2 linked regions of the Homo sapiens genome follow. The protein of the gene in region 1 purifies or fractionates together with the protein of each later gene. This does not show direct contact. Each region holds a gene or a part of one and is shown in the gene's direction. Other genes may lie near its edges.

Region 1 (5,504 bases):
AAATGTTTGGGGACATTAAAGAGGAGGGATCCTTAGATAGCTAGAAAGCCTGGCTTTCAGAATGTTGTATTTCCCCAAGTATTCGAAGAGCTGAGATCTACCAGGCTCTATTTCTCCCAAAGCAGCTGCGTATGTCAGAGCAGGGGCAAGAACAGCCAGGTGTTCCGTGTGGGGGTGCAGGTCTTCTGGGTCAGAGGAACGGGGCCACGTTCACCCTAAGAGCATTTTATGAAATTCCTTTAGAAAAAAAATCAAGGATGCCATTCTTAACAGATCTTTAATCTGCTATAGCCTCTCTCTTTGGACCAAATTAATAAAATAAATAATAAGATAATAGTAAACATCAAAAAAACAAAGGAAAGGTTATGTCAGCTAATCCTTAACCTTCTCTGTTAGTGAAACAGCCAGGACATTGTTTTTCTGGTTTTCCTTCGTGGCCTTTGAGGCACCATGATAAGAGCCAGCTCAGGGGCCCGCAGGGGTCTCCTCTCTGTGCATTTCTGTCCCCACTGCCTGGGCCCCTGTCCATTTCCCTCTCTCTTTGCCTGAGGCCACTCTATCCTGCAGTGAGGGAGCTGGGAGGCCTCTTTGTCCAGAGCCATAAATTCTTGGCCAGCCCAGGACACTCAGAAACCCTCACCCGCCATCCTTCAGTCACTGGGGCTGTCAGGGCGGACAGACTATGAATTCAAAGCATGCAGACAAATCCAAACTTAGGCATTGCAAAAGCCCTGTTGACAAAAAGCCTGATGGCAGAGAGCTTAAGAGGATTGAAAGATGCATGCCCTAGAGTCATTAGGTTTTGCTGTCAGACCCTTGGAATTGGAAATGCAGCACCATGAGCCATGTGTTTGCCAAGAAGTGGCCTCCTGATGCACCAGGACAGCTTCCGCAGGTGGAGCCTGCTGGCCTCCAAGAGGCACTATGTGTGTGACCCTGGGAGCAAGAGCGAGACCTGAGGCCCTGCAGATGCCCACAACCAAGTCCGGGTACAGGGTCTAGGCTCTTCTATCCTCAGGGGTCTGTGGATTCCAAAAATGAAATGCAACAGGTGCCAAATATATCTGAAATTGAAGCTTATTTGCCCAGCTTGGCAACTTCCGCTGGCTCATTTTCCCTTAAAGTTTTCATATTCCCAGCATGTTCCCACTCCATTCTTGCTGCAAATACAGTCTGAAGTTTGCTGGCCCAGGGAACTGACAAAGCCTCGTTCCCTCCCCAGCATTGCCTTCCCCTGGGGCAGTGTTGGAGGTACCACGGCTTGATTTTCATGTTGGATGCTCTTTTTCCTCACATCCTTACAGCCCTTGGACATGCCCTGGTTATCACCACACAGACCCCAGTTCTCTCCCCATATTTCATTTTTTCCTATGCATTTCAATATTAGAAAAGCCTGACTCACATTTTCTTTAGGGAGGGGCAGGGAGAAGATTTCAACATTCACCCTCACTGCCGGTCTCTCTCTTCAGCTACACCCACGCCCCCAGTCCCCTTCTCTCTCCTCCACACCTTCTTTTTTGGCTTTGTTTTGGTTTTCATTGAGTTCTGTCCAAACATCGAATATTTTTAAGCTGTGAGGAATGGGGGTGTCGGGAGGAAGTGGCCAGTCTCTTGTCAACACCCTGTTTCTTTTCCTGGCTGGCAGGTTTTGATTGGAACTTGGTATTCAAGTGGGATTACATGACGCCTGAGCAGAGAAGGTCCCGGCAGGGGAACCCAGTCGCCCCTATAAAGTAAGTGCCAGCATCCTTCAGGGTGCCCCTCCCAGATGAGACCCCAGGTTCCAGCTTCTTTGCTGGGCCCGCACCGCCTGGAGACCCAGTGGGGGCTGTTCACCTTCTGCCCTCCGGTTTCCCCTCGTCTCAGCTCAAAGATGAGCACCTTCCACCAGGTCATAGAATAAAATCCTTGGAGATTTCTTTTCCACAGTTGAAGTCTCACATAGGTTTATAAGGCCTATCTGCTAGGTCTGTGCATTCCTGTATGTTGATAATGTAGAGCGTTTCTGTAGCAGAGCAGGATCTCCGAGCTGACCCCAGGCCCAGGAAAAGGGGCTTGGTGGGCAGCAGGAGGCTTACTGCTGCTACTGCCCAGCAGGCCTTTGCTCTCCTGCAGAGGAAGGAGCCCATGCTCATGAAGCCCATGCTTTTAAGATTCCCAGGCCGGGCGGTGGGCTTTCTGGTTGAGAGTCAGGATGCCTTCTCTAGCTGGGGAGAGAAGGGGGCCACCTCTTCCAAGTTGGCACACGGTTAAGTGAGATAGCATTCACAGAGTACTTAGCGCTGAAATATATTTGCTGACATTTAGCCAACATCTGCAGTGTGCCATAGACCTTCCCAGCACTTTACACTGAATTCGCACAGCATCGCTTCTGGGAACAAAGTAGGGAGCTCAGTGTACATCTGTTGTCAACCCCTTCCTGGGATGATGAAGTGAGGAGCATGGTGGGTTCCCTTGTAGGAGGTGGAGTCTCATCTATGATAGTGATAATGAGAGCTGGTGCTGTGGAGCATTTCCTAAGCGTGCTCAGGGCTTTATGCCCATGATTTTTTGCAATCCTCGTAGCTACCCTATAAGGAAACTGACACACAGAAAGGCCGAGTTCTTTGCCTATGGCAGCATGTCAGTGAGTAGTGATCCAGCCCCAGCAGTCGCTCCCACATAGGGGAGGCTCAGTCCAGCCCCTGGCACTGTGGGAACATCCAGGCAGGGACAGTGGGGGAGGCATTTGAAGGCAGCAGTGGTGAAGCAGAGAGAGTGGCATGCTGGGCACTGAGCAGAAAACAGTGGCAGTGTGGCTGTTCTGAAGATCAGCTTATTGTTAGGGAATCAAGGCTTGGCCTTGGCGCAAGGGTGCTGGCAATCTAACCTTGACTTTGCCCTCTCCTCCCTCCCCCCTCTTCTTTCTGCCTCTTTAGAACCCCCATGATTGCTGGTGGGCTGTTTGTGATGGATAAGTTCTATTTTGAAGAACTGGGGAAGTACGACATGATGATGGATGTGTGGGGAGGAGAGAACCTAGGTATGTACAAGCCTCAAATCTCAGGACAGAGAAGTGCCTCAGCTCTGCAAAAGGCAGGGTGCCAATTGGAAAAAAAATTTAAAAGGCTTCAGAGTGACCATTCACTGGGCTTAATCGATCCTTGCAAACACATATGTAACACCCCTTTTGCTCTTGAAAGTCTCATGAGTTGGGCATTAAAATGTGCCTCCCTAGGTTAGAGTGGAGGATGCCAGAATACGGATAAAGTCTTTGAAGGGAAATGCAAACTCTTTCAAGGCGTCTGAACCCAAGTGTTTGGAATGTTGCAGGCTTGCAAAAACAGAGGGAAACAGTCCAGGAGCTCAGATTCATGCTGAGTGGTGGAGAGTGGAAAATGAACCCCGGCGAGGCTGGTGGGATTGATTGAATTGAAATCATGAAAATCCGATGGGGCAGGGAGGCCTTGGCACTTAATCCCTTCTCGACTACCTTTGCGAATGGTTCTCATTTGTTTTTCTGTTTGTTTGTTTTTTTGTTTTTAAATACCCCATGCAAATTATTTTTACCCAGGTTTAGGCACAGCAAAATTTTGCACATTGTGGTCTATATTGGTAGCCTTATATTTACTGCATAAAAGATGAAAAGATGTGTTTTGTTTGTTTAGGGTTTGGAGTGGGGGAGATCTTTTTTGCTTGTTTCAATTAAAGCCTTTTGTTTCAAATGCTTGACATTCTGAGCGAATTCTCCTGGGCTGCTGAGTGTTGTTAACTTACATTCGTCCTTGGGTGAGTGTACCCTGGAGGACAGGGGAGAAGGAAAGGGGAAAATGAGGCCACTCATTTTTAATAGTTTTGAGACTTTGAAAGTTTTTGTTACTTTAAAAGAAAAGACTAGCCTAGCCTATTATTTTTCCATTGTTTTATGATGTTGAAGTCAGTGATACCATCTCATCTTTGAGGATTTCTCTGCCTTGGTTTGATGTTGAAAGCTTCTTTAGGCTCGATTACTATACTGCACGGGTGGAGAGACCGTGAGTCAAACTCCTTTTGGGTTGTTTTAAAAAAATGATACATTAACCTCTAGGGAAAGCTTGGATTGAAGTCACTTGAGTACAAAAGGCTTCAGAATTGTTAACCCTCTAAAGAGAGTTCTGTCACCCTGTTCCATGGGTATCCCCTAATGGTTTAGTGGAAATCCAGCAGGCCAGGGTCGCCCAGTAGGGCAGCGTATCGTGTAGGTGGCCATTTCTCAAAAACAGTGTGGTTTTCAGAAGTTTGCATACTATTAGCTGAAATGAGACATCAGCCAGCATTTTGTGTCATCGTGTAGGAAGAGTGTTGATTTACATATCTAAGGAGGCATTCACCCAGAGACTGGGGGGTAGATTTGTTGTAAGGAGCTGCTTTATTGTGGTTTGGTGTTTGTATTTATTATGTAGCTGTGCTAGAAGGTTCTAGGGTCTGAGCGGTTCAGGTTGGGGTGAAGATGAACCCTGCAAGCAGGAGCACATCTCTGCCCAGGAAGGCTGGGGCATCTGTCCCTCCGTGAGGGGCTCTCCTGGGTTATGCCAAGGACTTGGACTCCCAGTGAGGTTTGGAGGGCTCAAGAGCTTCACGTGAGAAGGCCATGCCGTGAGCCTTTCTCCTTAGCACTGCTCTAGCTTCTGCTTCTGGGGGCCGTGCACACTACTAGCCATTGCCAACCTGAGGGGCCTCTGTGGGTGTGCATTGGGAGAGGTGTATGGTGCAGAGAGGCCCGAGTAAGATCCAAAACCACCTCCTCAACGTGTGCCCCGCTGGAATGACCAGAGCTTCCCATTTTCCTAATCATGTAAGTCCTTATGTCATTTAAGCAATTAAAATGGAGGACCAAGAACCTAACCCTTAACTCTAACAATGGGGGTAAGGCTCCTTGGGGGCATCATCTGTGTTTCTCTACATCCCTGTCATGCAAGGATGATGCTAAGTACTTCCAGGGAATCATCTGTTTGTGCTTTCTTAACGGAGTGTGGTCTGCAGAGGTCATGACACCTTGCCCAGGGTCTCAGAACCAAGATGTAAACACTAACTGCCTAATTAAAAAGCCATTGAGTTTTACTGAGTAATTATCCTCAAAGTTATAGGGTTCAAATGAAATCAACGCTGAAGATACTGTAGTTATACTTAGCCTTGAAAATCTCCCACAAAAGCCCTGGAAGGATCCCTTGTTGGCTTAACAGATTCCCCATAGAGAAGCCAAGGGGATTTCCTAGCCCCTAATTCTAAATCTTGTGGTGAGGCAAATGGATATTTAAATTTTATTTTCTGAAATAGAGACAACTTCTTTTTTTTTTTTTTTTTTTTTTGAGATGGAGTCTCGCTCTGTCACCAGGCTGGAGTCCAGTGGCACATTCTTGGCTCACCGCAACGTTCGCCTCCCGGGTTCAAGTGATTCTCCTGCCTCAGCCTCCCAAGTAACTGGGATTACAGGCATGTGCCACCGTGCCCGGCTAATTTTTTGTATTTTTAGTAGAGACAGGGTT
Region 2 (3,500 bases), on another chromosome or scaffold:
GCCTTTTGGCTACAATCAAGTATGATATTCGTGCCAGGTACAGTGGCTCATGTCTGTAATCCCAGCACTTTGGGAGGCTGAGGCGGGTGGATCACAAGGTCAGGAGATCGAGACCATCCTGGTTAACACGGTGAAACCCCGTCTCTACTAAAAATAAAAAAAATTATCTGGGCATGGTGGCGGGAGCCTGTAGTCCCAGCTACTCGGGAGGCTGAGGCAGGAGAATGGCATGAACCCGGGAGGCGGAGCTTGCAGTGAGCCGAGATCATGCCACTGCACTCCAGCCTGGGCAACAGAGCAAGACTCTGTCTCAAAAAAAAAAAAGTGTAATATTCGCATACTTGGGAAAGAACTGCACCAAGCTGGCTTTTGGATGGCCTTGCTCTGCTCAAGTTTGCAGTAACCCACATTTCTTTCTTTATAGCTCAAGGACATGGTGCCAAAGGAGACAATGTCTATGAATTTCACCTGGAGTTCTTAGACCTTGTGAAACCAGAGGTATGTTCTTTCCTTTCTCACTTCCCTTCCCATTTTAGGAAATGAATACCAGTAGTTTAGTGAAATGGGGAGCAGGGTTTGTGGAGAGAAGAAGATAAAAACCAAAGGGGAATAATAGAGTTCTTTTATTTGGAACAGAGCCCAGGTTTTAGCTGCAGAGGAATGGGAAAGTCAGAGACCCCAAGTTGAGTCAGGGCCCTGCCATTTATTAGCAGTGTGATCTTGAACAAGTCTCTTAACTTCTTCGAGTTCTGGTGTTCTCATGTGTTAAATGAAGGTCTGGACTAAGTGATCCTTCCAGCTCTGATATTCTCTGGTTTTAGTGATGGCAGAGGAATATGGCACCCATTGAGAACAGAGTTACATAGAGTGGTTGAAGCCCCCACCAGGGGTTACTTTCATGTGACTTTGCCACAGTTGCAGGTGAGAAAAATAGAAATCAGAAAGGGTGAAGGCAGCTGGCCTTCAGAAAGAATGCTGCAGATATCATCAAAACTTCCCTTCCCTTAGAGCCTGAGGAAGCTTCTCTCATAAGCAGGGAGAGAATCCAATAGATGGGGTATTTTGGCTTCTGGAATTACACTTAGCTCTGGTGGCTTGAGCTTCTTGATTTCCGTGCGCAGGTGCTCAGTTGTTTTGAGAAAGCATGAATAATAACCAGTGGTACAGTGGGCAGAGAACCTGTCATGGAGCTTCCTTTGGAGAAAAGGGACAGGACATGTAGACAAACAATGAGCTGGAATGGCCTATAAGAATTTGAGTTTAGTTGGGAAGACTCCCCAAATTGACCCCTGTGAAAAAATCTGTAACTGATCCAATACAGTTCTGATCTTGATGCAGGTGTTTCTAAAACCGGGGTCTGCTGAGCCAGGACAGTCATTTTCATGGGAGGAAAATTTATAAGCTGAGGGTAATTGGATGCAGTACCCTTGAGAGGGTGATTGGACATAGTACCTTGCATGATGTGGCTGTGGCAGGAGGTTCATGCTAGTTCCCTCCAGCCTAACCAGGAACTATTTGCCTTTCTTATCCTGATATCCTCCTGTATCATTCACTGGGGGAATCAGAGAAGGACATTATGTCCTTACCAGTTCTCCATGCCAGCCGTTGGTCTAGATCAACCTTTTTGGCACCAGGGACCAATTTTGTGGAAGGCACTTTTTCCACAGATGGTGGAATGGGGATGGTTTCAGGGTGATTCAAATGCATTACATTTGTTGTGCACTTTATTTCTGTTATTATTACATTGTAATATATAATGAATACAACTCACCATAATGTAGAATCAGTGAGAGCCCTGAGCTTGTTTTCTTGCAACTAGACAGTCCCATCTGGGGGTGATGGGAGACAGTGACAGATCATCAGGCATTATAGTCTCATAAAGAGTGAGCAACCTAGATTCCTTGCATGCACAATTCACAATAGAGTTCACGCTCCTATGTGAATCTTGTGCCAATGCTGATCTGACAGGAGGCAGGGCTTAGGCAGTAATGCAAGTGATGGAGAGCGAGTCTAAATATAGGTGAAGTTTCACTCACTTGCCCACCACTCAGCTCCTCCTGTGTGGCCCGATTCCCAACAGGCCATGGACCAGTATCAGTCCATGGCCCAGGAGTTGGAGACCCCTGGTCTAGATGTTCCCTTTGCATCAGGACTTGCAGGACCAGAGAAAGAAGGAGAATAAATATATCCTGCAGCTTCTATGTACGGCGCCCCTGGCATGGTGCTGCTTCAGGGAACAGAAGAGGGCATTCTCACATTTTCACTTTCTCTCCTAGCCTGTTTACAAACTGACCCAGAGGCAGGTAAACATTACAGTACAGAAGAAAGTGAGTCAGTGGTGGGAGAGACTCACAAAGCAGGAAAAGCGACCACTGTTTTTGGCTCCTGACTTTGATCGTTGGCTGGATGAATCTGATGCGGAAATGGAGCTCAGAGCTAAGGTTAGTAAGGATCCTAGGATCTAGCCATTGAGGACAAATCATGGGGAACCCACGTTATTCAGGCCACTTCAGATACCTCTCGGTCTGAAAGAATAGCTACAAAGTTACAAATTCATTTAAAGACCTGGTGATGTGATTTTCAAGAAGTATTGGCTATGTATTTTATAGACTTTCCTTCGGTTGAAATCTGTCTGATGTTTCTCTTACAACTAGACTAAGGTGATAGATGTTGAGGAGAAGACCACTGAAGTAAAGTGCAATTCTTATCACATCATATCAAGAGTACATACGGCCGGGCACGGTGGCTCACGCCTGTAATCCCAGCACTTTGGGAGGCCAAGGTGCGTGGATCACGAGGTCAGGAGATAGAGACCATCCTGGCTAGCACAGTGAAACCCTGTCTCTACTAAAAATACAAAAAATTAGCCGGGCGTGGTGGTGCATGCCTGTAGTCGGAGCTGCTCAGGAGGCTGAGGCAGGAGAATGGCGTGAACTCGGGAGGCGGGGCTTGCCGTGAGCCGAGATCACGCCACTGCACTCCAGCCTGGGCAACAGAGCGAGAGTCTCAAAAAAAAAAAAAAAAAGTACATACTGTCAACGTGACACATCACTGTTGATATTAACCATGGGTTAGCTGGCTTGAGGTGACGCTTATCAGGTTTCTCTACCATAAGGTTATTTTCCTCTTGGCTCTCCTTGGAAGGAAGTCACTATGTGTAGCCTACATTTAAGGAGCAGGGAGTTATGCTTCCTGTCCTTTAGATGGAGGGAGTATCTACATAATTTATTTGGAATTCTTCTGCATAGGAGAATAATTATGCATGTCTATTGTCTCCCATTTATTTATTCAATCATTTATATCATGTGAGTACATGGGTATTTATTTTATACTTTGAGTTATAATCTAATATTATTTATTTTGTTGCTCAAATTCTTCCAGCTTTGGCACTAACTGGCCTTTGGTTATGTCCTCATCCTGCCCATCTTTCATTTGGCTTTTGTATCTTTTTGAGAAAGCGCCATCATTATGGGACTGTTTTTTTTTTTTTTTTTGAGCAC

The links. Proteins that work in one complex are often made in the same cells at the same time.
Region 2: the proteins of GALNT2 (region 1) and HACD3 fractionate together in Homo sapiens (co-fractionation; one large-scale study listed by BioGRID). This does not show direct contact.

What each region holds. Positions count from the first base shown.
Region 1 is NC_000001.11:230,247,539-230,253,042, forward strand, and holds part of GALNT2 (polypeptide N-acetylgalactosaminyltransferase 2 precursor), read left to right. Parts: intron 1-1,645; coding exon 1,646-1,733; intron 1,734-2,918; coding exon 2,919-3,022; intron 3,023-5,504. UniProt on the Homo sapiens protein: Catalyzes the initial reaction in O-linked oligosaccharide biosynthesis, the transfer of an N-acetyl-D-galactosamine residue to a serine or threonine residue on the protein receptor.
Region 2 is NC_000015.10:65,554,463-65,557,962, forward strand, and holds part of HACD3 (very-long-chain (3R)-3-hydroxyacyl-CoA dehydratase 3), read left to right. Parts: intron 1-424; coding exon 425-498; intron 499-2,276; coding exon 2,277-2,441; intron 2,442-3,500. UniProt on the Homo sapiens protein: Catalyzes the third of the four reactions of the long-chain fatty acids elongation cycle. This endoplasmic reticulum-bound enzymatic process, allows the addition of two carbons to the chain of long- and very long-chain fatty acids/VLCFAs per cycle.